Linked DNA regions of Homo sapiens: region 2 is linked to region 1. Evidence: fine-mapped expression QTL. Tissue or cell type: whole blood. Region 1 holds a variant in brackets; the other region holds the start of a gene. All regions are shown on one strand. Distances are from middle to middle.

Region 1 (2,909 bases):
AGCTTACATTAATGTGTTTTCATTGCAGAGCTTCAGGAATAGCATGTTACTATGTATTGGCTTTGGAAAGTGATCATATTACTACAACATGAGAGCCGAGCTGAACAAAAACTCCTCTGTGCTTTTTAGAAAAGGGTCTTGTATTTGGATAAATGTTGCGTTAGAAGATTAAGACAATTAAAGGCATAGAAGGGAGGGGATATGTTCACACAATATATGCTTGATGAGTTTAACCCCTAGAGTATGGACTTTAAGAAATAAAAGCATATGATTGTGTGGGAAAATAGTGTGAAAGAAATTGATTACACATACGGAGTAATTTTTGTTATTGGATGGGTTTTCCTTTTAAGTGGTAATAGGCATACAGTTTAAATCCACATACATTTTCTCCTAGTAAAAGCTAAAGACTGTTTGTTTTTATCCTACAATATTGTAAAATAAAGACCTGAATACTTCACAGCTCCAAATACTCATGAGTTATCTGAATATGTAATTTAAAAGATATCACCACTCAGGTCCTTTTTTTTCCTTGTGAATTACACGATGAACCAGGAATTGTGCTTTTTTCCCTTTATCACTTCTCTAAGTCAAATGCAATGATAAGAGCAAATATTATCGATGTAGTTCTCTCTGAATTTTGTTTGGTTTTTACTATATCATATGTTTTAAGAAATTGGAGTTTCTGAAGTGACAGTTTATTTTGCTGGCTATGTGAATAGAAAGAGACCTACTTTTTGGCATTCATTTACAGAGTTATAAGATCATTTAAAACATGGGTTTTTTTTTTTCTTTTTTTGAGACAGAGTCTTACTCTGTCACCCAGGCTGGAGTGCAGTGGCACGATCTCGGCTCACCGCAACCTCCACCTCCTGGGTTCAGGTGATTCTTGTGCCTCAGCCTCCTGACTAGCTGGGATTACAGGTGCATGCCGCCACACCTGGCTAATTTTTGTATTTTTAGTGGAGATAGGTTTTGCCTTGTTGGCCAGGCTGATCTCAAACTCCTGACCTCAGGTGATCTGCCTGCCTCAGCCTCCCAAATTGCTGGGATTACAGGCGTGAGCTACCGCACCTGGCTAATTTTTGTATTTTTAGTAGAGACAGATTTTGCCATGTTGGCCATGCTGGTCTGGAACTCCTGACCTCAACCTCTCTGCCCACCTTGGCCTCCCAAAGTGTTAGGATTATAGGCATGAGCCATTATACCTGCTCTAAAACACACATTTTAAGCCTGGCATGGTGGCATATGCCTTTAGTTCC[G/A]GCTACTGGGGAGACTGAGGTGGGGGATAACTTGAGGCTAGGATTTTGAGGCTGCAGTGCGCTGTGGCCATGCCTGTGACTAGCCTTTGCACTCCAGCCTGGGCAAGAGAGCAAGACCCTGTCTCTAGGAAAAAAAAAAAAAAAAAACCCACATGCATTTTAATGCTTTTTGCTAAAAACTAGAAATAACATCTTGTTTGTTATTATTCATTGAATGTTACTTACTCAGCAAACATGTAATGAATGCCTACTGTCTGCTAGGCATCATGCTAAACATGGGATAAAATTTTGAGAACACTATACACTGCTTTCCCTCAGCATGTCTCAGGCAGACATGTGGCCAAATAATTACCGTAGATCCTAATCACTTCTATGATTGCATGATGAACAAAGGGCCGTCGGGTCACAGAAAAAGGACTTAGCTGAGAGAAATCAGAGACATATTCAAACAGGAGATGATGCCTGGGTTGCATCTGGAAGGAGATACAAATATTCACTAGGAGAAAAAAGGAGAAAGTGCATTATTCCAGGCAGTGTGTTCTATACATGCAAAGGTGTGGAGTGCGAAAGGGCCTCTTGGCTTGGGGAAGCACCAGGAAGTTGACTAGGAAGCCTTGAGAGGTGGACTGGGGTACGTTTCTGAAGGGTCTCCTAGGACATGCCATTATCAGTGAATACATTATTCAAGAATTTCGGCTACTCTAGATGCTACTTAATTGACTAGATTTTGGTGTTCATGAAGCTAAAGTTATGGATATGATCTTATGGGCACATGGCATAGCTAGACTTCAATTTTAACCTCAGCTAACAATTTGTCATTATGTTCTCTGTCACAAGGGTAATTAGATAAGAATGGAGCTGCATCAATATGTATTCCCCACAACTATGGAAAAAAATGCTACATATGCTAATTTGCTACAGTACGTATGATTGAGCACCTGCCAGGCACTCTGGTAGGTGAGGGAGATATGCCCTGTTGCCTAGAAGACAGCCGGCCACCTCCTGAACTTCTCCTCTTGGTTGTCTCCAGAGCACTGAACACTTCACACAGCTGAATGGCAACTCTTCATCTCGCCCCAATTTTGCTCTTCCCCCAGACTTTCTCCTCTCTTTAAGTAGCTCTTCAAGCCAGAATCTACGGGATATTCTTGACATCTCTTTCTTTCTCACCTGCCACATCTAGTTCTTCATCAAGCTATGTCATTTAGATTCTAAAATATATCTGGAAACCTTCCACTCCTCTCATCCCCACTGCCAGCAACCTGGCAACCACATCTCTTGCCAGTAGGCTCCTAACTGGTCTCTCTTTTTACATTTTTGCTCCCCCACCTCCGTCCTTTTATCAGGATAATAGCCAGAAAGATCATGTAACTTCCCAATTCAAACCTTCTGTTGACTTCCTATTGCCACTTAAATAAAACCCAAATTATTTACTGTGGCCCACAAGAGCCTGTGAGTTTTGGCCCCTGCTGCCCTCCCCAACCTCATCTTGTATCACTTCTCTCTGGCTCACTTTGTTCCAGCCACAGCAGCCTTTTTTCATTTTCCCACCTTGCCACACAACAGCCTCGGCACAGGCTGTTCCTACTGCCAGCAATGCTCTTCTTCCCAACATTAGGCAGTTGGTATTGTCTCATGGTTTAGGTCTTG
Region 2 (2,909 bases), 21 kb before region 1:
CCCCCTGGAGTTCATTCATTCAATAACTTACTGGGCAGCTATTATGTACCAAAAACTGGGAATGAGGCGTTAACAATATAGTTTCTACCCTAGCAGAGCTAATTTCAGGGCAGAAGAGACAGACCCACACATAAAAATTTTAATAGCCAAGATGAGTTAGACATTCATTACATTTTATAAGTATGAGACAGAAAAATAGGGGTGACCTTTGGAATATACTTAAAAAGTAACATATAAATGAGACCCAGAGGGCCAAAAGGAACCTGCTGTCTAAATGATGGGGTGAAGAGCATTCCCAAGTAGAGGGAACCCAGCCGGCAGAGGTGGGAAAGAGGTCATAAGAAAGGACTTAGGCAAGGCAGGCAGTGGTCCGAAGCGGGTGAGGGGAGAAGACTTGTTAAAGAAATTGGATTTTATGCAATGATCAATGGGACCCCACTGAGGGCTTTAAGAAGGGGAGTCCGATTTACATTTATTTTTTTGAGACAGAGTCTCGCTCTGCCGCTCAGGCTGGAGCGCAATGGCGCAATCTCGGCTCACTCCAACCTCTCTGCCTCCCAGGTTCAAGCAATTCTCCTACCTTAGCCTCCCGAGGAGCTAGGATTACAGGCATCCACCATCACGCTCGGCTAATTTTTCTATTTTTGTAGAGACGGGGTTTCACCATGTTGCCCGGGCTGATCTCAAACTCCTAACCTCAAGTGATTCAGCCGCCTCGGCCTCCCAAAGTGCTAGGATGACAGGCGTGAGTCACCGCGCCCGGCCTTCGATTTGCCTTTTTAATACAGCTGTGTGCTCCAACTCTGCGGAGAATGGGTTGAAGACAAAGGAAGTGAGAGGGCTCTTGCTGAAGGCGTTGGGGACGGAGCAGATTCAGAACGTGAGGAAGTGACGGCAGCAGCTGCTAACCTTACTGCGTGCTCATTTGGGGCCGGCCAGGCACGATTCGAAGCGCCTCACCAAGTGTAAACTCGCTTCACCCTCAGGACAACTCTATACTACGTACCGTGACCGTCCTCCTATACTGGGAAACCGAGCACAGAAAGCTTAAGCGCCTGGCACGTGGTGGGCGCTTTCCTACTCACTTTCTGGGACCACGCACCTGTAAGCTTAGGTCTGGGAATAAAAACCCGAGCAGGGGCCCCTAGCGCCGCGCCCCGGCAGGACACAGGTCTCCGCAGCGCCCGTGCGCGCCCCCTGAGGCGCTGTGATCGGAGGAAACCGAGGCCCCGGGGCCGAGGCGACCCTGCCCCATCTTCCCGGCCGCGCCGCTTCCTCGCGGTCCGCCTCCAGCCCTGCCGGACCCCAGCAGCCCGCGCACCGCGACTCGGCCAGGAGCAGGATCCCGGGCCCGACCGCAGCCCGCGAGAGACCGCACCGAGTCCGCGCCCACTGCCGCCCAACACGTACCTGAGGCGCACAGAACCAACGCTTGCCTCGGATCCCGCCCCTTCGGCGGCCGCCGCGCATGCGCGCAGTTCAAACCCTGGCGGCAGCGGCTTGTGCCTCGAGGCCCGGCCCCTTCCCCTTCCGGAGAGCCCACCGCTGGGTCCTAAAGCCCGCCGGGTGTTTACCCAGGACGGGGCTGGGGAAACCTGGTCTCTCCTAGCTCTTGGCTTACTTCCTGGAGACTTCTTAAAACGAGAGGAGAACCAGAAAGGCGTCCCCTAACTTCGCTCTAGTTAACTAATAGCAAGACTCACCCTCTTTACAGGATTCTCATGGCTCAGGCTCCCAGGGCTCCATGCAGCGGCGTTTGGTTTAAAGTGGAGAGAGGATACGCTTAGGTTAAAGGCAGCTGCAAGGAGACCTGTGTCCTGGGAGGGGCTGGGTGCAGACTTTGAAATCTGCTGCAAAATAAAAAGTTAAATGAGTTCCCATTGGACTCAGAACCTCGAATGTCTGTTCCTTCTTCGCAACAGTTGCGTTCTCGTAAAATCTTCTGAGAAAAGGAACTCGCCCCACGTTCCTTGCCTTTAATAAGGATGTTTGCTGTGGGATTTGGGCTCGGTGCTGTTTATGGTATTTATTCTTGGAATCTCTTTCACACTAGGCATCTCTTCCAGAGGACTGAGTGAAATACATCTGTGTAAATATAACGGCTCGTTTCGTTCTTTCATTGAAGATCTACTTTGTGCCAGGCACAGTGCTAGGTGCTGGGATTATCTTGAGGACATAACAGATGTAGTAGCTGCCCTAGGAGCTCGATCCCAATGACTTGCTGATCTGAACGAGAATCCTGGACTTGGCTCTTTTCGTTTGGTTCTTCTTGTTTGTTCACAGTCTTTTTGTCTCCTATAACGTTTAGCATAGTGTCATAGATCTAAATGATTAAAAGTAACCTATTGCAAGATGGAGGGAGAGAATGAAATAAATCATGAACCAGGCATTGAACCAGCACCTAGAAGCGCTTGGATTTCCAGCCGCGCTCAACGAGTTAAGGGACAGTCAGGGGGTGGAGCCAAGTGCTGGGGGCAGGCCTGGGCGCCTCACTGCCAGGGCGGCTCCAAGGAAACGTAATTAAACAAAGACTCTGGCCAATAGCCCTGCGGGATTAACGCGAGTGGCTGGCAGGTTGTCCAATGGGAGGAGACGTCGGAGTTGCGCGGTGAAGTTCGGCTTCCTGAGCCGCGGTGGGCGTGGCCGCGGTAGGCTGCCAGCCAGGCTGGGAAAGCGGTGGTAGCTGGTTGGGTTGCTGGGGCTCGGTTGTTGTAGTCGCGATGTTCTTCTCCGAGGCCAGAGCCAGGTCGCGGACGTGGGAAGCCAGTCCCTCGGAACACAGGAAGTGGGTGGAAGTAGGTTTCCGGAGGGCGACTGAGCCTCGGACTTCAGCTTGGCCTGGGCCTCTCGCTTCCTCTCCCGTGTCTGGGTCTCACTCTGCCGGGTGTGCAGATAAGACCTGGGCTGCC

The links.
Region 2: it holds the start of TDP1, and the variant in region 1 is fine-mapped to the expression of TDP1 in whole blood (TOPMed, PIP above 0.99).

The regions. Positions count from the first base shown.
Region 1 is chr14:89,933,895-89,936,803 of GRCh38, reverse strand. All of the region lies in intron 3 of EFCAB11 (EF-hand calcium binding domain 11), which reads left to right. Among named protein-coding and RNA genes, the nearest start is that of EFCAB11, 19 kb to the left of the region's middle. The variant G/A (reference allele first, on the strand shown) is at 1,260.
Region 2 is chr14:89,954,472-89,957,380 of GRCh38, reverse strand. It overlaps TDP1 (tyrosyl-DNA phosphodiesterase 1), which reads right to left and starts at 1,454. Exons shown (of 17, transcript NM_018319.4): 1 at 1,411-1,454; 2 at 581-803. It overlaps EFCAB11 (EF-hand calcium binding domain 11), which reads left to right and starts at 2,651. Exons shown (of 6, transcript NM_145231.4): 1 at 2,651-2,795. The coding sequence starts at 2,721. RefSeq lists a silencer at 1,127-1,356 and an enhancer at 2,422-2,909.